Homo sapiens: one gene and its partners. The protein of the gene in region 4 purifies or fractionates together with the protein of the main gene of each other region. This does not show direct contact. Each region holds a gene or a part of one and is shown on either strand. Other genes may lie near its edges.

Region 1 (2,962 bases), on a different chromosome or scaffold from region 4:
TCTATCGCCCAGTCTGGAGTGCAGTGGCATGATCTCGGCTCACTGCAAGCTCTGCCTCCCGGGTTCACACCATTCTACCTCAGCCTCCCGAGTAGCTGGGACTACAGGCGCCCGCCACCACGCCCAGCTAATTTTTTGTATTTTTAGTAGAGACGGGGTTTCACCGTGTTAGCCAGAATGGTCTCGATGTCCTGATCTCATGATCTGCCCGCCTTGGCCTCCCAAAGTGCTGGGATTACAGGCATGAGCCACCACGCCCGGCCAAAGATAAGGTTTTAAAGACAGCAAAGTAACAAGATAGAGGGAGCCTCAGTCTCTGACACCTTGAAGGGTGACACCAGCCCTGCCTTGTCTATCTGAACTTATATATATGAGAAAGACACTTCAATATTCCTGAAGCTGGTATTTTTAACTTTCTCTCGCCACCACTACTAACTCTAAGTAACAATTGGAATGGTAATTTATGAATTATCTGAAGATAACTGGCATACAGACAATATTTTTCAGACAGGAACACAGTGTTTATTCAGGCATTTTATTTCCTCCATTAAAATGTATCATTTTCCTCATAAGGATTTTGCATTTTTCCCATTGTTTATTCTTAGACAGTATACAGTTCCAAGTTTTGCTGCAAATGGGATTTTCAAATTACATTTCCAATTGGCCAATGCTATATTCTATATACAGATTTTCTATATAGTACAGATTTTCATGGTGAACTATTAAACAAAACTACCTTTTGTCATTTCTAATAGTTTTTCAACTGTTTCTCTTGGATGTTTGTCTCTACAATCACACTGCTCAAAATAAGGACTATGTTTTCTCTTCCTAATACTTCTATTTCTTAGGGTTAAATGATTGTTGCATAGGCAACAGTCATTATTGTCTTAATCCTGACTTGAATGCAGATGTTTGATGAAGCTTTCTGGAAGACCTTCCTAGTCCTTAGCCAAGTTACAAAGGCTTTATTCTATTCTCAGCCTGAAAAATTTAAATCTGGAATGTGTTCAATCTTAGGAAATGTTTTTCGAGCATCTATCAAGCTTATGGTATTTTTTTTTAAGTTAAAGTAATAAATTTCCTAAAGGATTGAGTTACATAATCGTCATGTTGCAGTTTTCAGATAAACCCTACTCTACCATGACACATTATTTTGGGATATTTAATTGGTCATGTTTTTTCAACATGACCAGTTTCAACAAATTACATTTGTTCGTAAGTGAGACTGGTCTATAGCTATCTTTGATGAACAATTTTCTGGAATAAGGATTATGCTAGCCTCAGAGACCAAATTGAGATGTTTCAACATTTTGTATAATCTAGAACTGCTTAAATAAAATAAAGATTCTCTTTCATAAGTTTTTATTTCCTTTTAAATGCAAGCATTACAAGGACAGTGTTTTCTTTTGTCTGATTTTTAAAAATTGATTTATTGCTATCCACTTGCTAATTTTTTGTTTCATTGCATTGTGATGACAGGATGGACCCTGAATTCCTACCTATCAACAAACAAAAAAATATTGTGGTTTTTGCTTCATGGTCATTTTTTCATGGCATTTGAAAACAAATATTCTATAGCTATTAAAATTTGTGCACTATATAATTCAAAATGTTTCCTCTATTTTGAACTCTTTATCTGACAATTTCTAAGCGCTGTGTTCAAATACGTAGCTATGATTATAAATTTGACAATTTCTTGTTTACCAAGTTTTTCTTTACATAATTTGATACCATGCCGTGCAGGTTGTGTTTTATGAGTTAATTTCTGAAATCCTTGCATGTTCTAAAATTGGTAGAATGTCCTTGCTGTGCCCTTACTCTTGACAGTTTCACTCAAGATAGAAGTCTAAATTCAAAACAGTTCTCCCTCAGAACTTCAAAAATAGCAGTATGTTGTAGCACTCCAACGAACAGATGACAAGTCTGAGACCAATGTGATTCTTTTCCCCTTATAGGTACACTGTTTCTCTTTAGACATTTTGAGATTTTTCTAAGCTTGGGATTACACATATTTTGTCAGTATTCATCCTGCATGACTTTTTCATTGTTTTTGCTCAGCACTGGAGACTTCTAATATGAATCTTTCATCAGAAGATTTTTTTTTTTTTCCTATTCTTCACTTCTTTTTTCACTTTCTGGAACTCCTCTATATATTTATACTGTAACATACATACATACATTCAAAAATATTTATTGCATAGTATTTACCTGGCACTGTGATATATGCAGGGTATTCAATGGTGAATTCTCTATACATATGGCTCTTAATCTCATGAAGTTTAATTTTTAAACAGATGGTGTTCTGGGTTTTCTATGTCTTTAAGAGATACATCTATGTCTTTTACTGTAACTTCCATCTTTTTTATCTTTTCTTGTAAGCTCTGGAAGTATCTTCAGCTCAAAATTCTAGCTCAGTAATTTGATTCTCAGCCATGTTTATTCAACTAATCAGCCTAAAACAGAGTTTATTTTCACAACTGTTTATTTCCAAGATACTTCTTTATAGCAACTTGCATTTTTAAAATTAGTACAATAACCTCTAAAATATTTGAAGATTATGACATATAATATGATGAGGATTACATATGAAACTATTATAAGTAGTAGTAATTATTATTCCATATAATACTAATTATACTTGGTCATTTTTTCCCCCTGAATTGTTTCCCCAGGAATTCTTTCTGCTTGTTAAGTTTGCTGTGTATTTTTCATGTTGCTCTTTTCCTTAAATATTTGCTGTTTCTCATTTGTCTACTTGCAAATGAGAGCCTAGGAGTCAACAAACTTTTTATATAAAGGGTAGGCTTTAAGGCCCAAACACAGTATCTGTCATATATTGTTTTGGTGTTCTACAACCCTTTAAAAATGTAAAATCTACTAAGAAATAGGTAGTGGAAGGCCTGTAGATAGCAGTTTTCCAACCAATAAATTTCTCAGTATCATTATCTGGAGTTTATTTTCT
Region 2 (3,538 bases), on a different chromosome or scaffold from region 4:
GGACTTCTGATGGTGTCTGAGATAGGCAAGTGCCCCCTGCTCATTCTTCCCTCTTTCCCCCAGGACCAGAACCCCTGGGAAGGAGAGAACAGGAAGTTCACAGTGGGGGCAACCAGCTCAGGCTGCCCATTCCCCTGTTGGCCTCCTGAGAGTAGGAGCACAGTCGAGTCCCAGTCGTGCCCCTGGCCAGGCCCTCACCAGCTCTTCCTCGCTGTGTGTCAGGAGCCCTTCCTCATCGCCGTCGTCTCGGGTCCGTGCTTCCCCCTGGGGCAGGCCTGCCTCAGAAGTTGTGTTCTCTTGGGGGGCTGGTGGCCGGCTGCTGCCACCGCCACCGCCACCACCACTGCCACCGCCACCGCTGCCACCACCACCGCCGCCGCCGCCGGCGCCACCTCCATCACCCTTCTTCTTGCCATCTTGAGGGGAAGGGGTGGAGGAGGGGAGAATAAAACTCAGCCTGGGGTAGCTGTCTAGGGCAGCACCTTAGCGGAAGCTGGCCTCAGCATGGTGAGTGCAGGTGGTCCAGGATCTGCAGGGCCACCCTAGCTCCTCTCTCCCATGTACTATTTCCCCATGCTCTGCCCTGTGCCCTGGTCATGGAGGTGGGTGAGAATCCTCAGAGGCTGACCTGGATTGGCCTTTTGCTCCGCAGCGATCTGCTCCAAGCGGCTCAGCAGGGCATCGATATTGGACTTGATCTGTGTCAGCTCCGTCTTGATGGCCTGCAGCTCACTGCTCTTTACTGGGAGTGGAGGGGGGACAGGGCTGTCACCTAGGGGGCTGGAGGCTTGACACTAGCACAAAACCTCAGCCCTGTTCTTTCAACCAGGAAAGCAGTTATTTTTTGTTTTGTTTTGTTTTTTCCCTGCTTAGGAAAAAGGTCTCCTCCTTAGACTACCTGGCGTCCATCCCTACAGTGACAGCACACACTTCTGAACCTGGCTATCTTTTCTCCTGATCTCTCAACTCTGAAAGGGACCAAAGACAGACAGGAGCACAGGTGTGTATGTGTGGTGTGCTCTTCTGTGTGCACCTGAGCAAGAACATGTGTCTTTTGGAATCTGAATTCCTGGGTGATTAGTTAAGCAGCATGTGTGTACCAGAGTGAATGTGGAGTAATGGGCCTGGGTAGACCTGTCCTTATCCTTACTAGAGGAAAGATGGCACCATTTCTTCACTGGGCACCATATCCAGCACTGGACTCTCTGTGCCCAACACAACCCCTCCTCCTAAAACATCAGCTGTTTCCTCTTAGAAATGCATGAAAATACTTGGCTGTGTTAGAGCAGCAGAACTGTGGAAGACTTGTTGTTTTATCTATGTTCCAATGTAAAAAATGTGATTCTATTATTTTGCTAATGATAAAAATGCAAATTACTTAGGAATATGATACAGTCACTCACACTTGATCTTGGCTGAGCTGGTGGTGACAGCTGTGGAGCGGGCAAAGAGCTTGACAGGTACGTTAGTTTTGACACGCCGGACCAAAGGGACTGTGACCCGGGGTCGCTTCACAGGGACCGCCCTGGGCACTGGCACGGGCGACAGACGGCCCCGGTAGTCGAAGAGCCTGTGAGGGCAGATGGGCCAGAGGCTGCAGCATGGCTTGTGGCCACCAGGGCGGTATTGCAGCTCCGGCTACAAACGTGTGTGGCTGGTGAGGGGCTGGGAGGCCTGCACTACACACCTCTGCTGGCTCCTAGCAAGCCCTGGAGTGAAGAGGAAGGGCTTGCCGGACCCTGATGGCTGTTGGGATCCTCACTACCTCACTACAACCTCTCCAACCATCCAGGCCCAGTAAGGGCAGGCAAGGCATCAGGTGGTAGCAGTTATACCCCATTCAAAAGAGGAGACATCCCTAGGTCCCCTGGCACCCAGGCCTGCTCTATTACATGACCTGGCTTCTGCTTGGTCAACTGCCACCCCAACCTCTGCTCAGAGTTTGCAAATCTCAAAGCAGCACAAATCCCCAGCTAGGAATAGAGAGGTATGGGAGTGGGGGTCAACTGAGCCTACCTGAGCCTCAGTTTCCCCATATGCCAAATGAGGATGGCTATCCACATTCAGTGTCCACCCAAGGGCACAGCATGAAAGAATTCGGTTAAAAACACACTTTAGAACGTGTAATAGATGAAAGGTCAGGGTACTGAGACCCTCAATTCACGAACCCATGACCTCAGAGGCATAAGACTGAACTCTAAGCCCTTTCCTTACTTGACCTCCTTAATCACCACATCCTTCGTGCTCCATTCCAGAGACAAAGGCCAGGGGCTTGGTAGAGTATCAAGGTTGGGCAGCTCAATCAGACCCCCCCAGGGCTCCCAGGCTGTGCACTGCCCCCAACCAAAGTCATCTCCAAGCCCTCTCTAGGAGGGCTTCCTTTCCAGCTGACCAGGCAGAAACTCAGTAGGCTGAGAAGTGGTCTCTCTGACATCTGTTGCTGCCACCTTTTTCAGGGAATCGCAGCCCAGGGGGTAAACTTTGGGTCAATTTTCCTGACAACGGCCAGGAAACCTGCCATCACTGGGCAAAAGCCCCATTCCTTGGGGCTCCTTTGTTCAGGGAGCCCCTTCCTGGAGGTGGTGATGGCTGCAGATGGAGAGTCTCTGGGAATGGATCCGATCCCAGACCCTGCATTTCTGCCCCCAAGGGGAGGGAACGGCTCTGGCCTTGGTCAGAATCACTGAACCACAGAATCCCAGAGCTGGAGGAGCCTGGAGAGATCACTTGGTGCAAGCCCATTTCACAAACTGGGAAGGGAATTTGCCCAAGATCACATAATCCATTCAGTGGCAGAGCTGAGATTAGCATCTAAATCTTCTGACCCCCAGGCTAAGACACTTTCCACTACACCACACTGTCTCCTGAAACGACTCACAGGGGCGGGGTGGGGATGGGGGCGGACGACTCATGCTCAGAGAGGCACTGTTCTTCTTGGGCTGCCTGGGGTGGGCTAAGCTGGACAGAGGGAGAGAAGCAGGGAGGAGGAGAGATTTGAGTTAGTATCTACCATGATTTCTACTCAAGAATGTGGCTAGTGCTGTTGTAGTGGGAGCCCACAGCCTCTGGGCTGGAGTCTGGGTAGGGCTTGGGAGTGCAGGGTAGACCACAGCCCGCCAGGGACTAATTAGACTTCCAAATGGCTGCTGGCCTCTTGTCTCTAAATATAAACCCAAGAAGCTTAGACTGAGCTCTGGGGCTCCTACCAGCTGCTTGGGCACCTCACAGAGGGAAGGGCTCAAACTCCCTGCAACCAGCGCTGTACCCTGTTGTGTATTCCAACTAGCCACACTTACATAGCTCTTGGCTGTACGGTCTCCTTGAGCCTCACCCAAGGACAAGAAGGAAAAAGGGCAGTTAGCATGGCAGACAGTGTTGTATGGTGGTAGGAGCTCTGGCCTGAGCACCTGCAGCACAGGACCCCAGTCTCAGCTCTGCTACCGACTGGTGGAGCAACCCCAGGCAAACCTCTGGGTTTTGGTTCTCATTTGGAGAACTCAGTGGGCTGCACCAACAATCTCTCAAGACCCTTCCAGCT
Region 3 (2,514 bases), about 11 Mb from region 4:
AATTTGATGTAAGAGTGACCAATTTGATGTGAGAGTAAGTTAGAAGAGTGAATGATGATCCTTAGATTGCTAGGAAAGAGGGCCCAGCGGGTCAGCTGTGTTAGTGTGTGGAGACTAGGGCTAGTGACACCTCCGGGTCAGCTCTGTGCCCAGGAAGCACTTCAACCTGTGTGGCAGGAGGGATAGCAATAGGAAGCACTTCAATTCCCCACAACTCAGACACCCAGACGGGAGGGCAGAGGACCAAGGCTGAAAGGAGTAGAGAGCCTGAGAGAGAGATGAGACTGAGGGGAGCTAGTGGTGACTCAGGCTAACCAGTCAGCGGGAGAGACCTAGACCGGGGGGCAGAGAAGGCGGGAGAACTGGAGAGAGGACCTAGCCTAGGAGGAGAGGGAGCAGGCTGAGAAGGAAATGCTCTGGGTAGGAGAGACAGACTCCAAGGAAAAATCCAACAAGTAGAGGAGGATTTGGGATTGGAAAAGCTGAGGTCCAGCTGGGAGAGCTGAAGAGGGATAGAACAGAAGAGGTTGAGCCATGGGGTTTCAAGTACGCGGAAAGGAGCAAAGATGTTAGGAAAGGGTCGAAAGGGCACATCCCGGAGTCCCAGGTAGCAGGACGAGGATGGCAGGGGAAGAGCCAAGGAAATGAAGCGGAGATGTTGAGTGGCTCCCGCCTTGCCTGGCCTTACCTGTGCGCAGCCAGTTAGCAGCCGCAGCCACAAGCACAGCTACTTCAGGACTGAGGCCAGCAAGCTTTTCCTATAAATGGCCATATAATAAGTATTTTTGGCTTTTTGGGCCATATGGTCTCTGTCTCAACTACTCAATTCTGCCTTTGTAGTTCAAGAGCAGCCATAGATGATACAGCCATTAATGGGTCTGGCTGTGTTCCAATAAAACTTTATTTACAAAAATAGTTGGCAGGCTAGATTTGACCTGTAGGCCACAATTTGCTAGCCTTCCCTCTCCCTGCTCTAGAATAGTAAATACAGGAGTAGGAACAGACTTTTGATAGGGTGTTCCCTATCAGGGCACAGGGAAAATGGTGAACTCAGCTTCATACATACTAAGTTGACAGATTGACTGTGGAACCTTCTGGTAGATTCTTCACAGGCAGTTAGCCTTTGAGTCTGCAGACTGGGAAAAAGACTGGGAAAAAGTTGAGAGAGGGATGGAAGAGTCATTCATGTGGAAGGGAAGTTTGAAGTAGATGTTTTTGTGATGCTCCCAAGGCAAGGCCACCCTGGGAATGAATTAGAGTAAATTTAGGGCCAAGGACTTAACCCAGAGGATCCAGCAGTTAAGGAAGGACCTGTGAATAGAGAAGAAATAACCAGAAAGGTGTGGGGCCTGCCTTTAAAGGAGAGAGACTCATGTCCTGGAAGCTAAGAAAAGGAAGTTTCTAAAAGAACAATGTGGTCATCAATATCAAATAGGTCAGGTAAAACAAGAGCTGAAATATATGCATTGCATTTGAAAGTAAGGCTGCCATTGGTGAACCAAATGACAAGAATTTAGGTGGAATGACAGGGGAGAAGCCTGAGTGTAGTGGGCTGGGGAGTCAATAGATGGTGAGAGTTATAAACAAGAAGTATAGGCTCTTTTTTTCTTTCTTTTTTCTTTCTTTCCTTTCTTTCTAGAAAAGGCAGTAGCTAAAAGGGGATTTAAGGTAAGAAGAAGGGTTTTGTTTTGTTTTGTTTAGGTTTGTTTTTAAAATACTGCTGTTTTTGTTGGAGAGGCTTAAGAATATAAACATGTTCAGAGAAAGGCACTAATGGAGAAGTTGAAGATAGAGAATTGAGATAATAGGTGGAACAGCATTTTGGAGGAGATGGCTGGGAGTTACCTGGAAGCCCAGGAGTTCACTAGACCTGAACAGCAGCTATTTTTTCTTCTTTGCCCTTAGACTGAACAAGAGACCCTTCTGCTGAGTACAGCCTGTCCTCCCACCCAGGAACACCCTCTGCCTAATGACAGGACCTTCCTGGGAAGCATCTTGACAGCAGTGGCAGATGAAGGTTAAAGGCCCTGGGATTTGGGGGTGGGAAAGTTGTGACGCTGCTCCTGATATCTTCTGCTGTTGAAGATGTCCACCAGCGGGCTTGTCTATCTTACCCTGGCTTCCATTATGGTAGACCCCTGCCTGGATCATCAGAGGGGCCCTCTCCCATTATTGGTTTTTCTCTTAGAGCCAGAATCAACTCCTGTGCCCTTGCTTGGAAGTGACAAGAGTGCTTTCACCCGAGTAGCATCAATGGTTTCCCTTCAGCCCGCAGGTTAGGAGGGGCTCCAGGGATCCTGCCTCATTTCTAGAAAATCTGGTGGTGATGAGTAAAGACGAAAGCAGTGAGAAGTGCTTTGCTCTAAAAACCTCAATTCTACTTGGGCTCATTTTATTTCTGCCTTCTGGGATCTGTAATGTTCCAGACATTCAAATCCTGTGGGTGGGGAACACGGATAAGAGTTGTGGAAATGATGGCTATACACTCCTTCCTTCCAGGGCTGGAAGGCTAGA
Region 4 (3,538 bases):
CCCCCATTACTTCAAAAGTGAGCTTGAAATTGTTTTAAGTGAACTATGGCTGCGGATTTTTTACTGTTTTATCTCAGGGAGCATACAGTGGAGTGATTAAAGTTTGGACTCCTTCTCCTTGTGATGAAGAGAAACAGTGAGTCCAGCTCTTAGGAATGGCATCAGTTCTCCTGCAAACAAAATGCTGGGATGCAGACTTTTGGCACATTGTGGAAGTAGGAGAACTATTAATCCTGTAATGGTTTTCATGCCACTGGGTCAGGAAGGCTGTCCTACACTAAACCTTACTGCATCTGAAAACATGTTTACATCCCAACAAGCCACCTTAGCTTTTTTTTTTTTTTTTGAAAGGAAAATGAGATTACAAGTCAATACCTCCACAGAGAGGTAACTCCTAATATTCCTATGATCTCTGAACCCTATTTAAACCCTCCTAAAATAAAAATATCATTTTGGTTTTTCTATTATATTTAACTCTAAAGGCGGGCTCTGACTAATTTGCTTGGGCTTGATGCTACAGTATTAGCACAAGCTATAAGCTCCCTACCACCATATAAGCCTTGCTCTTCGGCCTTCCATCATTTTGAACCCTAAACCTCATAGATTTAGAACGAAACACTGTATAAAAACAAACAGATAAAGGGTTAAAATATTACAAATAAATAGCTAAAATAATCTTCCCTCCCCCAGTCACTCCTAAGAAACAGACACCAAACATTACTTAAGTGTCCAAAATGACCAAAGTCCTTCATTTGCCCATGACTCAAACGGACAACTACCTCAAACAAAGTTGAACAACCTTCATGCAAATGCATCAAGGAATGTATTGCTTTTTCATTTTCTGCCCAGCCCTTCATATACATGCACTAAAATGAGTTTAAAACATGGCCTAAAAATGGAAAAAGGGAGAAGAAAATATATATGAATATTTCCCACAAAACTGTTTCCCTCCCTTCCCTCTCCCTACACCCCTCCCACCCCCCTCCCTTTCTTAAGCAAGTATTTTAACTTTCTTTCTGGCACAGGAACAAAGAAGACTTCCTGGTAACCAGAATCAAACCCTGTGGTTTCTTTAATAGGGTCTGGATATGCCTTTCTAATTCACCCAGCTTGATGTCAAAGCCATGCCATTTAGGATTCTTAACCAAATCAGACCTGTCTGACTCACCCCTTATGGTGGTTTGCCTATAAACTTATCAATAGTTTTTTTTCCTCTGGCCCTGTTTCTTTTAGGAAATAAGGTTCCTAATTCCCAATCAGGGCCACATCCATAAGATCATCATCTTCCTCCCCAATCATAAAGTCTGGGCTGAGCCTTGAGGGTCTGTCTGCAGATAAGATTGTGTTACTTGTCATAGACAAGGACTGGTCTGAAGAGATGGGTGATTTGGACCAACTCTCTGGCTTGATGCTATGAGATTTTTTCTTGTCTCGGTCTTTGTCCCGGTCTCGGTCCCTATCTTTGTCTTTTACTTTCTTCTTTTCCTTTTTGTGCTTCTTATGTTTCTCTGTGCTGTATTCTGGAAGTGGTCGGATACCATCGTCTGAGCTGGGACTATTCTGATAAGATTTCTCTGCTATGGAGGAGCCTGACTCACTTTCACTGTCCAGATTCTGGGGGGTATATGCTGGTGACTTACTATGGCTGGGAGAGCCACGCTCATGCTTTGGAGTGGAACCACTGATGAGTGGAGAGCCATAGTTTTTAGAAGAAGCCATTTGAGGCCTAAGCCCTTCTCCACTACTTTCCCCAGGTTTCTGCAAAGTCACTTTGGCTTTAATGCTAGGGGAGCCTCCATCATGCTTACTGATGATAATTTTTGCCACACCTGTGCTCCCCACATTTTTTGACTCTGAGGTCTTCTTAGAAGAATCCACTGAACTCCCGGAGGTGGAAACCTTTGATTTGTCTTTATCACTTTTCTCACGCTTGCCCTGAAACTCTCCTCCTGACATGTTATGTTTGGAGGACATAGGATGGCTGGAAGAATTTGTGCTCACCCCCATCTGGCCGTCCAGTGGGTCTTCACCCCCAGGGCCACTGGTGACAACCCCATGCTTCAGTTTATCTATGACAGCTGTCAAGGACGGCTTCTTGTTTCTGCTGGGAGATTTTCCTTTAGAACTCCCATGCTGGTTCTGAGAGGATGACATGGAAGAGCCACTTGAGGAAAAGGAGGAGGAAGATGCCGTACAGGAATTAGATGATGGGGGAGTTTTCTGGGACAACGAGCCTGAGGATCCTAACCCTGAAGATGACTTCATGCCAGAGCTTGAACTAGTTCCAGACATATGAGAACCACCAGAACCTGAACTGATAGGGGACTTGGCTTTAGAGGATGGAGGAGTTCCAGGAACAGGCTTCATTGGAGAGGCAAGCTTGTCAGAGCCTCCAGGTGGCCTTGAATGAGAAGGGGATATGTTTGGTTTACTTAAAGAAGGATTCATAAGTGATGATGGCTTTCCTTGAGGTTTCATCTTGGTGCTGCTAGAGCCACTGCTCAGTCCATGCTTGGTTATGGGAGAGGAGCCTGGCTTCCCCCCAGACTGGGATGAATTTTTGGACTGGCTAGATCCAGAAGACCCCTGGCTAGAATACATACTGCTACTTAACTTGGAACTTGATGAACCTTCTGATTTACTGCTTTTCATCTTCCCTGAGGTGGAAGCAGATGAGGAAGAGGAGGAAGAATGGCTATGGTGGCTTTTGCTGCCTGAGGAAGACACAGAACCACTGCTGGTATACTGACTGTGAGAGGAAGGCTTGCCCACCATCACTGTTCCCTTAGGAATCTGAATAGTGATTTTGGGAATGGGTGGTGTGGCAACACCTGGGGGAGTCTGAGATCTTCCTGCACTGCCTGGCGATTTAGATCCACCTGTACTGGTAGGTGGGGTAAAAGGTCTGTTAGAAGAACTATGAGATGGAGACTTTCCCTCAGTGTCTGCCTTCTTCCGCTTTGGAGGCTTATCTTTGCTTTTCCCATCATTAGAAGGGGTCCGACTGCGCTTCCCTGGTTTGCTGTCTAATCCGGGCCCCGAGAGAGTACTATTACTGGTGCCATTGCCTTCCTTTACCCTCTTTTGAGTCTTTTCTTTCCCTAAGTCCCCAGTGGTCAGTAAAGGACCCTGACTACCACTGTGATGCTCCATAAGATCTGCAGGAGCTAAAGCTTTGCCGGCTACTGAAATAATACTGAAATCAACTGTGTCGGCTTGGTTATTGCCCTTAAACTTGGTCTCCCCATTATCACCTCCAAGCATTGGCACCCCCAAAGTATTTAGTGCCTGAGATGCAAATCCTTTGAAATCATCATTATCCCCACTTTGGCTGCTTTCATCAAAATATTCTTCTCCAAAACCACTTTGGCTCTGGCTGTTCAATAAATCAGGATTGAAATCTACTCCATCATGAAAAAAATGATTGGTAGGAGAGTCACTACTGGGGCTTCCAGCAGCATCTGCAATAAGATCAGCTGGATCAGTGTATGGATTTTCATTATTGTTAGTTTGAAAGACATCAGAGTCAAACAGGGTA
Region 5 (3,538 bases), on a different chromosome or scaffold from region 4:
ACTACAAGCAGCACTTCCTTGGTACAAGACCTTGTGGTCCACTCCTACCTTTTTCCTTGAGGTCTAGGGGTGGTGAGGGCTCTCAAACTATGATTAGTGTATCATTCCTTTGGTTTCCTTCATTCTGACCACATTTTCACGCTTTGGAAAACAGTCCTATAATTAAACTTTCCTCAGATTACTTAATTTGTACCATGTGATTTATGATGAGACCATGACCAATTCATACGCTAATGTCACTCATTCTGAAAATATGTGCAAAAATTCTAAGGCAAATATTAGGAGGACCAAATCCAGTATTATATAAAAAGGCTATTATAGCTCAATCAAGTTGAGTTTATTATAAGAATGCAAAGTTGGTTTAATATTAAAAATAAATGTTAGGTCTGGGAAAAAATAGCAGATAGGAGGCAGGACTAACTTGCAGTTCCCACTTGGTCAGACAGAGCGGCATGTGGAGACTCCCATCATGAACTTTTGCTCCAAGAACTACCGCAGAAACATACCAGAAAAGGCAAGGAACTGTGAGTCAGCTTGCTTTCTCAGCTGGGAGGCCTGTAGCCTGGGGCAAGTTCTCAGCCCTGCTCATCAGCTGCCTGGAAATAAACTTGGTGCTGTTGTGGGGGCACGGTGGGAGTGAGTCTGGCCTTTTAGGCTGCAGGCTGTGTGGAAGCTGGGTGAGGCCTGTGGTTGCCAGCTTTCCCCCACTTCCCTAGTGACCTGTGTGATGCAGCAGAGTCAGCCATAATCCACCTGGGAACATAACTCCATTGGCCTGGGAATCACACAATGGTACCCCCACCTGATGGTCTTTCTCTACTGGCCCTGGTAGCCGAAGACAAAGGACTTAATCTCTTGGGAGCTCTATGGCCCTACCCACTGCCTGACCCCAGAGCAAGCTTGTATCCTCCCTATCCTACTGCAGCTGATGCACTCTTGAAAGCACCACCTCCTGGCTGAAGGCCAACCAACACAAAACCAGCGCACTTAAAAAAAATACAATTAAGGACCCTCACAGAGTCCACTTCACTCCCCTGTACCTCCACTGGAGCAGGTGCTGGTATCCACAGCTGAAGACGGATCACATCACAGGACCCTTTGCAGACACTCCCTAGTACCCGCCAGAAGCCTGGTAGCTCTGCTGGGTGGCTAGATCCACAAGAACAATAACAATCACTGCAGTTTGGCTCTCAGGAAGCCCCATCCCTAGGGGAAGGAGGAGAGCACCAAATCAAGGGAGCACCCTGTGGGACAAAAGAATCTAAACAGCAGCCCTTGAGTCCCAGATCTTCCTTCTCACAGTCTACCCAAATGAGAAGGAACCAGAAAAACAATTCTAGTAATATGACAAAACAAGGATCTTTAACAACCCAAAACATCATACTAGCTCACCAGCAATGGATCCAAACCAAGACAAAATCTCAGAATTGCCAGAAAAAGGATTCAGAAGGTCAATTATTAAGCTAATCAAGGAGGCACCAGAGAAAGGTGAGGCCCAACTTAAAGAAATCAAACAAATCATACAGGATATGAATGGAAAAATCTCCAGTGAAATAGATAGCATAAATAAAAAACTATCACAACTTTGGGAAATGAAGGACATACTTAGAGAAATGCAAATGCACTGGAAAGTCTCAGCAATAAAATTGAGCAAGTAGAAGAACTTCAGAGCTTCAAGACAAGGCTTTTGAATTAACCCAGTCCAACAAAGAAAAAAGAATTTAAAAAATGAACAAAGGCTCCAAGAAGTTTGGGATTATGTCAAACAAACAAACCTAAGAATAATTGGTGTTCCTGAGAAAGAAGAGAAATCTAAAAGTTTGGAAAACATATTTGAGGGAATAATCAAGGAAAACTTCTCCAGCCTTGCTAGAGACCTACACATCCAAATACAAGAAGCTCAAAGAACACCTGGGAAACTCATCATAAAAAGATCATTGCCCCGGCACATAGTCATCAGGTTATCGAAAGTCAAGATGAAGGAAAGAATCTTAAGAGCAGTGAGGCAAAAGCATCAGATAACTTATAAAGGAAAGCCTATCAGATTAACAGCAGATTTCTCAGCAGAAACCCTATAAGCTAGAAGACATTGGAGTCCTATCTTTAGCCTCCTTAAACAAAACAACTGTCAGCCAAGAATTTTGTATCCAGCGAAACTAAGGTTCATAAATGAAGGAAAGATAGTCTTTTTCAGACAAACAAATTCTGAGAGAATTCACCACTACCAAGTCAGCACTACAAGAACTGCTAAAGGAGCGATAAATCTTGAAACAAATCCTGGAAATAATACCAAAATAGAATCTCTTTAAAGCATAAATCTCACAGGACCTATAAAACAATAAGACAATGAAAAAAAAAAAGCTGTTCAGGCAACAAATAGCACGATGAATAGAATAGTACCTCACATCTCAATACTAACATTGAATGTAAATGGCCTAAATGCTCCACTTAAAAAATACAGAATGGCAAAATTAATACGAATTCACCAACCAAGTATCTGCTTTTCAAGGGACTCACCTGACACATAAGGATTCACATAAACTTAAGGTAAAGGGTGGAAAAACATATTCCATGCAAATGGACACCAAAAGTGAGAAGTAGCTATTCTTATATCAGACAAAACAAACTTTAAAGCAACAGCAGTTTAAAAAGACAAAGAGGGACATTATACAATGATAAAAGGACTAGTCCAATAGGAAAATATGACAATCCTAAATAAATATGCATCTAAACCTGGAGCTCCCAAATTTATAAAACAGTTACTACGAGACCTAGGAAATGAGATAGAAAGCAACACAATAATAGTGGGGGACTTCAGTACTCCACTGACAGCACTAGACAGGTCATCAAGACCTGTTCCTGAATGATCACTAGGTCAACAATGAAATCTAAGTAGAAATTAAAAAATTCCACTGTGGTCTGAGAGAATATTTGATATAATTTTGATTATACCCTAGAACAAATGGATTTAACAGATATTTACAGAACATTCTACCCAACAACAGCAGGATATACATTCTATTCATCAGCACATGGAACAGTCTCCGAGATAGACCATATGATAGGCCAGCTGAACTTTGTAACAATTCCAAATGAACAGGAAGTCTCCTGGCCAGAACTCAAGGGAGGGTGTGAATCTGGTGTGCAGACTCCACAGGCTGGGAGATGTGAAAGCCCTACTTGTTCTCACAGGTGAGAGGCTGGTAGCCTGGGGCAAGTTCTCAGCCCTTCCTGCCCACTGCCTGTAAACAAACTTGGTGCTGTTTGAAGGGACATGGTGGGAGTGAAACTGGTCTTTTGGGTTGCATGGGAGCTGGGTGAGGCCTGCCACCAGCTTTCCCCCACTTCCCTGACAACCTGCATGACACAGCAGAGGCAGCCATAATCTTCCTGGAATAGCTCCACTGACCTGGGAACCACACTCCCATCCCCCACAACAGCCACAGCAAGCCCTGCCCAAGGAGTCTTGAGTTCAGACGCACATAGCCCTGCCCCCATGACGGTCCTTCCCTACCCACTCCGGTAGCTGAAGACAAAG
Region 6 (3,538 bases), on a different chromosome or scaffold from region 4:
AAAACTGCTGCAGGGAGCAAGGGACAGGAACCTATACACAAAGAAGCTAGGCCTGTTGGAAGAAGAGAGAGGCAGCCTGTGGTCCCACCACACAGCAAGTTGGAAGGGGTGACTCAAAGCCCAGATCTTGAAAGGCAGGATCTTGTGGCTGTTATGGTTAAGTACAACAGGAGACCCCCAGCATCCTTTAATAAGGGATCAGCTAATAGTGGCTGACCTGTGTTGAGTGCTGCCTGTGTGACAGGCACGATTCTACACACTTTGCATACATTAGCTCATTTTCTCTTCCCAGCAACTCTATGAAGTTGGAAGAAATACAAACCTCATTCCATGGTTGAGGAAGCTGAGTCAAACAGGCAGTAAACAGAGTAGCCAGAACTCAAAGCCAGGCTGTTTGGCTGCAGGCAATGACTGCAGAGGTGAACAAGGGCCAGACTGGTAGGGCCTTGAAGGCCAAGGTAAAGGGTTTGCATTTTATTTCAAGTGTAATGGAAAAAGCCACTGGAGGGGGACTGAGACTTCCTGGTCCATTCCCTTAGATCTGAACTAAGAGAGGGCACAAATTCTGGGACAAGAACACCAAATCTTGGCTGGGTTGGCTGTTAAACCAAACTACTGCAACTTCAGCCATACATAGAAGTCTAATCCAGCCCTGCTCGTATCAAGCAGAATGCTCTAGCCCCTGCAGAACTGGATGTCTTCCCTTTAGGTGAGGGTTCTCGAAGTGGGGCCCTAGACCAGCACCATCAGATTACCTGGGATCTTGTCACCAGTGCAATTTCTGAGGCCTGACCTCAGACCTACTGAATCTTAGAGACCCAGCAATCTGTTTCAACCAGCCTTCAGGGTAATCTGAATGTCCTCTGAAGTTGAAGAACCACCACTCTGGGATATCCGCATGCAGACACCACCATCACCACCAGCTCTCCTAAGTCATGCTGTGTATATCTTCGGGCAGCCCCTGCACTGCACACCAGGCCATTATTCCCGTAGGTCCCTGCTGGTGGGGCTCTACAGCTCCTGATTCCCGGAAATCTCATTACTGCCCCAACCCATTTTTCTAACAAATTTGATTTTCTGCACATATTTACTCTTCAAATGTTTCGGCCTCTTTTTCTGTTGTTTTTTGTTGTTGTTGTTTTGTTTTGTTTTTGAGATGCAGTCTTGCTCTGTCCCCCAGGCTGGAGTGCAATGGCACAATCTCGGCTCACTGCAACCTCCGCCTCCTGGGTTCAAGAGATTCTCCTGCCTCAGCCTCCCAAGTAGCTGGGATTACAGGCGCCTACCACCATGCCCAGCTAATTTTTGTATTTTTTAGTAGAGACGGGGTTTCACCATGTTGTTAAGGCTGGTCTCGAACTCCTGACCTCAGGTGATCCACCCGCCTCGGCCTCCCAAAGTGATGGGATTACAGGCATGAGCCACCACGCCTGGCCCTGTTTCAGTCTCTTTTGTCCCAGAGTAAACCTCCTCTTCCTTCCTACTTCTGGAGCTTAATTTTACTTTCAGGCTTAACCTAGGCTCCAAAGCAGATAGATGCAAAGGATACTTTCAGCTTTAACCTTGACTTTCCCCAACAGCCCTCAGTCACCGGATTTCCCTTTTTAATTTATTCATCCCAAGTTTATTCATGTTCCAATAAATATTTGTGCCCTCAGCCTTCTAGGAACTAATTGTGCAGGTGCCAGGTACTTCTGCCATACCAAAACAGACCTCATCCATGCCCTCATGAAACTGACCTATTAGGGGGAGATGGCAAGATGCAAATAAGTATATAATTGTAAATGATATATCAGAAAAGCCTGAGACTTGAATGATGAAGGGGCAGGCATGACAGTAGTTCATGACAGCAAACATATAGGGGCTGAATCTATGACAGATTCTGTTCTAAGTGCTTTTTACATATACTATCTAGGTAATCTTCCAACAGCCCTATGAGTTAAGTAGTATTATCACTCTCACTCTATATGGAAGGAAAATGAAGTATAGGGAGAATAAGGGGCACATAAACAGGACAGCCAGGGTCCCAACCCAAGCAGACTGGCACCAGAGCCTACCTTTCTAACCACAGGCTAAGGTGAGAAGAGCTGAGTGGAATGCTAAGTGGGAGGGGGTGGCTAGACAGGTGTCCAGGCAGAAAGACCAGAACAGAATATGCAGGAGCCCTGGGGAAGAGAAGTCACCCTGAAGCCAGAAGGGAGACCAAGCATACTGGTGAAACTGGAGAGCATCTGGTGGATTGGAAATATATTTTGGAACTGAACAGGATGTGCGCATGGATGTAGAGACGCTGATGGATGAATGGGGTATAAGCAAGGAGGAGGTCTCAAGGATGACTGCCAGTTTTCTGATTCCCTGCTTTAAAGGCTTGAGCACAGTCTGTTTGTAGGAAGCAAAGTATTATAACACAATATATAATGAAGTCCTACAGGATGCTGATGCACAGCAAGCTCTCAAAAAAATATAACCAATCCATCAGGCAGGTTAAAGCTTCCATATTCTCCCCCCCGCCCCACCCCCATACTTCTCCACATGGGTCTTCGTTCATGGGTTCCACCCTACCTTCTGGGAGCCCTTTTCTGAAATATATTACCACTGGTTAACAACAACAATAAAAATTACATTTATGGTGACAAGAATAACTTCTACCAGGAGGAGGGCTTTTCTCACACAAATGTTGGTTTGAAATTTTTTCTGAAGTGCACAAACTAATTTACAAATGAGAGGCTATGCAACTTGCCCAAGGCCACACAATTGCAAAAAAAAAAAAAAAGCTAAATCCAGGTTGGCCCAACTTGGAAGCCCACACTTCCTCCATTAAATCAGCATTTTCCACCACAGCTATCTCTAATGGAACACAACTGTTGTTTTCGATACACAGATGAACTTTTAAAGTGTTAATAGTAATGGTCTCATTTTATTATGTATAATCATATACGTGTGTGCATGTAATATCAAATAGATTAAAAATAGTATGTAAACATGATTTGATATAAATTTTATATATACATATATTTCAATAAATCCATGACTCCACGTGTAGTACTGCCCAGGAAACACAAAGTTTCTTAAAAAATTAGTTTAAAGAAAACTTCAGAATAAAAGTACAGGTGGTACAGGGGTAGGGTAGAAATCTTGAGGGAGGTAGGACATAAATAACTAAAGCTTAGGAAACTCTACTCACCAACCACCCAAGAACAGCCAAGCACCTGTTCCATATTGTACCCAAATTTGGCTACAGCCACACATAACTCTGTCTGCTTGGGAGAGTTAAAACATTGGCTGCCTTGGGGGAAAGGGGATAACATCAGAAGATAATTTAGCATAAATCATCCTCAAAGCAGTATTAGTTTTGACATAAATACTGGTTTGGTGGTACAACTCCTCTGCTTATTCACCTATACACCTTGGTTAAACGAGTCAAGCTTTCCCAGGCCTGTTTCACTTAGTCAAAAGGAAGTTATAGAAAGTAGTCCCTAAGGTCGCTTCCAGTTTTAGAACTCCATAAAATGTTGTGAGACCCTGAAATCCAAAATTA
Region 7 (3,538 bases), on a different chromosome or scaffold from region 4:
TGAGATGGGAGGATCACCTGAGCCTGGAAAGTAGAGGCTGCAGTGAGCTGTGATTGTGCCACCACACTCCAGCCTAGGCAACAGGGATGAAACTGTCTCAAAAAAAGGGAAGGGGTGGGCTGGGCGTGGTGGCTCTTGCCTGTAATCCCAGCAATTTGGAAGGCCAAGGCAGGCGGATCACTTGAGGCCAACCATTTGAGACCAGCCTGGGCAAAATGGTGAAACCCTGGCTCTACAAAAAATACAAAAATTAGCTGGGCTTGGTGGCGCACACCTGTAATCCCAGCTACTTGGGAGGCCGAGGCACGAGAATTGCTTGAATCCGGGAGGCGGAGGTTGCCGTGAGCCGAGATCGCACCACTGCACTCCAGCCTGGGTGACAGAGTGAGACTGTCTCACAAAAAAAAAGCCAAAATATTCCTCTCTTTCCAACCACTTATTTGCATGAAATTAGAACTTCCTCATATACTTAAATATAAAAAATAAAATACTACAATGGAATGAATGCAGAAGTAGATGTAAGAATCCAGCTGTTTCTATTAAGCCAGGTCATTAGAGAGATTCGCAAAAATGTAAACCAATGTTATTCTTGTCACTAAATTCATCTGGAAAATAGATATATTTTTCATTAAACATGGTTTTTTGTTTTGTTTTGTTTTGTTATCGAGACAGAGTCTCACTCTGTCGCCCAGGCTGGAGTGCAGTGGCACGATCTTGGCTCACTGCAACCTCCACCTCCTGGGTTCAAGCAATTCTTCCCTCAGGCTCCCGAGTAGCTGGGATTACAGGTGTGAGCCACCACGCCCAGCCAAAACATGTTATTTATGTTAACACGTAATGAGCTTATTAGCATTTTTAAAACAATAAATTTAAAATCTCAGCTTTAACTTCTAATATGATAAATATCAATAAATACAACTCACATAAAACAAAAGCATTTTGGGTTCCCGGGATCAAGACATTTGAGAACCATTGTTTTAAAGATATACACTGAAAAATTTATAGGAGAAATTATATGATGTCTGGGCTTTGCTTAAAAATAATCAAGAGGGCTGGGTGCAGTGGTTCACGCCTGTAATTCCAACACTTTGGAAGGCTGAGGCTAGAGGATTGTGGCCATGAGTTCAAGTCCAGCCTGGGCAACATAGTGAGACCCCCGTCTCTACAAAATTTTTTGTTTTTTGTTTTGAGATGAAGTCTCACTCTGTCACCCAGGCTGGAGCACAGGGGTGTGATCTCGGCTCACTGCAACCTCCGCCTCCCAGGTTCAAGTGATTCTCATGCCTCAGCCTCCCGAGTAGCTGGGATTACAGGTGTGTGCCACCATGCCCGACTAATTTTTTGTATTTTTAGTAGAGACGGTGTTTTGCCATGTTGACCAGGCTGGTCTTGGACTCCTGACCTCAGGTGATCTACCCGTCTTGGCCTCCCAAAGTGCTGGGATTGCAGACATGAGCCATTGCGCCTAGCCTCTACAAAAAAAAAATTTTTTTTTTAAAGGTGTAGTGGCACATGCCTGTAGTTAAAAAAAAGGTTGGAGGACAACCAATAAATTCAAAAAAGGACTTAAGAGACAATATTAATTTAGCTACTTGGGAGGCTAAGGTAGGATTGCTTGTGCCCAGTTCAAGGCTGCAGGGAGCTGTGGGCATGCCACTGCACTCCAGCCTGGGTGACAGAGTGAGACTCTGCCTTTAAAACATGATGATAATATCAAAGGTTAGAAGGACAGAGATGAATGCAACAAGACTGGCCATCAGTCGATAATTGTTGAAATGGGGGTAACAGGCACACAGGCATTCACTATACCACTATCTCCATTTTGGTGTGTTGACATTTTTCATAATATAAGGTTAATTAATAATAATGATGATGATACAGTTCTTACCGAGATCTACCCTCCATGGGCTGTCTATTGAGGATCTGAATAGGTCCCCTAGCACGAGAGTGAATCTTATCATCCACCATATGCTTCAAACGCTGGTAATAAGTGGGGCCAATAAATATTTGTGATGTGATTTTTCGACCAGTGAACCCATTGTACAGGACCTGCAACAAACACAGATTTTGAAGTGTAGACCTAAAAATTAAACAACGTCAAAGAAGATATGTGTATATATTGTGTTACTCCATTTATATAAAAATTAAAGCACAGAACTAATCTATAATGTTAGCAATTAAGAGAGTAATTAGCTTGGGGTGGGAGTGGAAAGGTAGCGACTAAAAAAGGTTCAGTCGCTACCTTCACATTTTTAGATCTTGGTGTTAGTCATGCAGCTGTGTTTACTTTGTGAAAATTCATCAAGCTGTACATTTCTATATGTGCACATATGATACTTCAATAAAAGGTTACATTGTTTCAGAATAAAACTACACACATACAAAAAAAAACAAGTGGCAAATTACTACTATAAGAGCAAATATACCTCATTTCCTCTGAGATGATAGCCATAATCAGATAAAAGATTAGAAATCTTCTGCACGTTAACAGCATCATTAAATGGAGTGGCATCACCAATTTCACCCTTGTTAGCCGATACCTTTTAAAAAAAAAAGTACTCTTTAAAATGTTGCTTCAGTCTGTCTCCCCCTAAAAGTCATATCAATAAAAATGCATTCAAAAAATTTTTAAATACTTTTAAAATTTGAAAGTATTATTTTAAGTATTTTAAAATTCAAAGATTTTGAACTCAAAATCTATGTTATGGAAAGCTGTGATATATAAGGTTCATTTTATAACCTTACACAAAACATTTAGAACAAATAAACTTGCTTAAAAAAGAAAAACTCAATTATAAGTATTCAAATAGAAGTCGATCCATGGGATCAGGTACAAAAAGAGTGAGACTCCTAAGTACTTCAGATGGCTCAAAGGAAAATGACATTTTAATGCCCTAAAACCAAGCCATCCATATGTTAGACTATTACCACTTTACCTTAAAAGAATACTTAAAAATAGAAAACCTCCACCAAAAGATGTATGCAGAGCTGATAATAGAACTATAAAATTATTAAGTTCACATTGAACTCTCCATCAACAAATTAACTGTTCATCTACAGAAAAGAACTAGTCAAAAGGAAAATCACATATGTATTAGTTGAATGTAGTATATCTCACAAAAATTCTGACTTGTCCATAACTTTGCAAATTGCCAAAAAAAATGGCAGAATCATAAGCAATTTGAAAGCAGAAAAGTAAGTCTCACACTAGCTTTTTACAAAGTACCCTGGCTCAAATGTGAGAGCAATCACCTATCAGAGTTTTAGAAGAAGCATCAGCTTAGAATCTATATTTTTGAAGAACATCTCTTACCTTCCCTTGAAGGCATTCAATTAAGTGACCAATAGTCATACGAGAGGGGATGGCATGGGGATTGATGATGATATCAGGGGTGATACCTTCACAGGTGAAAGGCATATCCTACAAAGAAAAATTTTAAAAGGGACTCAAAGATACATATACTAAACTAGAACTGACATTTCAGTTCTCCCAACTGAATTACTGTATGTCCCAAATTCTGTTTAAACATGGTATGTT

The links.
Region 1: the proteins of MED1 (region 4) and ZNF326 fractionate together in Homo sapiens (co-fractionation; one large-scale study listed by BioGRID). This does not show direct contact.
Region 2: the proteins of MED1 (region 4) and RALY fractionate together in Homo sapiens (co-fractionation; one large-scale study listed by BioGRID). This does not show direct contact.
Region 3: the proteins of MED1 (region 4) and SPAG5 purify together in Homo sapiens (affinity purification with mass spectrometry; one large-scale study listed by BioGRID and IntAct). This does not show direct contact.
Region 5: the proteins of MED1 (region 4) and RPAP2 purify together in Homo sapiens (affinity purification with mass spectrometry; 3 studies listed by BioGRID and IntAct, with this or other methods). This does not show direct contact.
Region 6: the proteins of MED1 (region 4) and MED12L purify together in Homo sapiens (affinity purification with mass spectrometry; 3 studies listed by BioGRID and IntAct, with this or other methods). This does not show direct contact.
Region 7: the proteins of MED1 (region 4) and POLR2B purify together in Homo sapiens (affinity purification with mass spectrometry, with the first as the bait; one large-scale study listed by BioGRID). This does not show direct contact.

What each region holds. Positions count from the first base shown.
Region 1 is NC_000001.11:90,033,091-90,036,052, reverse strand, and holds the end of ZNF326 (DBIRD complex subunit ZNF326), read right to left. Parts: 3' UTR 520-2,962; downstream 1-519. UniProt on the Homo sapiens protein: Core component of the DBIRD complex, a multiprotein complex that acts at the interface between core mRNP particles and RNA polymerase II (RNAPII) and integrates transcript elongation with the regulation of alternative splicing: the DBIRD complex affects local transcript elongation rates and alternative splicing of a large set of exons embedded in (A + T)-rich DNA regions.
Region 2 is NC_000020.11:34,073,906-34,077,443, reverse strand, and holds part of RALY (RNA-binding protein Raly), read right to left. Parts: intron 1,571-3,538; coding exon 1,404-1,570; intron 743-1,403; coding exon 629-742; intron 417-628; coding exon 199-416; intron 1-198. UniProt on the Homo sapiens protein: RNA-binding protein that acts as a transcriptional cofactor for cholesterol biosynthetic genes in the liver. Binds the lipid-responsive non-coding RNA LeXis and is required for LeXis-mediated effect on cholesterogenesis.
Region 3 is NC_000017.11:28,579,512-28,582,025, reverse strand, and holds part of SPAG5 (sperm-associated antigen 5), read left to right. Parts: intron 1-1,905; coding exon 1,906-2,017; intron 2,018-2,188; coding exon 2,189-2,275; intron 2,276-2,514. UniProt on the Homo sapiens protein: Essential component of the mitotic spindle required for normal chromosome segregation and progression into anaphase. Required for chromosome alignment, normal timing of sister chromatid segregation, and maintenance of spindle pole architecture.
Region 4 is NC_000017.11:39,406,230-39,409,767, forward strand, and holds part of MED1 (mediator of RNA polymerase II transcription subunit 1), read right to left. Parts: coding exon 1,246-3,538; 3' UTR 1-1,245. UniProt on the Homo sapiens protein: Component of the Mediator complex, a coactivator involved in the regulated transcription of nearly all RNA polymerase II-dependent genes.
Region 5 is NC_000001.11:92,326,538-92,330,075, reverse strand, and holds part of RPAP2 (putative RNA polymerase II subunit B1 CTD phosphatase RPAP2), read right to left. Parts: intron 1-3,538.
Region 6 is NC_000003.12:151,088,656-151,092,193, reverse strand, and holds part of MED12L (mediator of RNA polymerase II transcription subunit 12-like protein), read right to left. Parts: intron 1-3,538. UniProt on the Homo sapiens protein: May be a component of the Mediator complex, a coactivator involved in the regulated transcription of nearly all RNA polymerase II-dependent genes.
Region 7 is NC_000004.12:57,023,888-57,027,425, reverse strand, and holds part of POLR2B (DNA-directed RNA polymerase II subunit RPB2), read right to left. Parts: intron 3,422-3,538; coding exon 3,314-3,421; intron 2,541-3,313; coding exon 2,427-2,540; intron 2,050-2,426; coding exon 1,889-2,049; intron 1-1,888. UniProt on the Homo sapiens protein: Catalytic core component of RNA polymerase II (Pol II), a DNA-dependent RNA polymerase which synthesizes mRNA precursors and many functional non-coding RNAs using the four ribonucleoside triphosphates as substrates.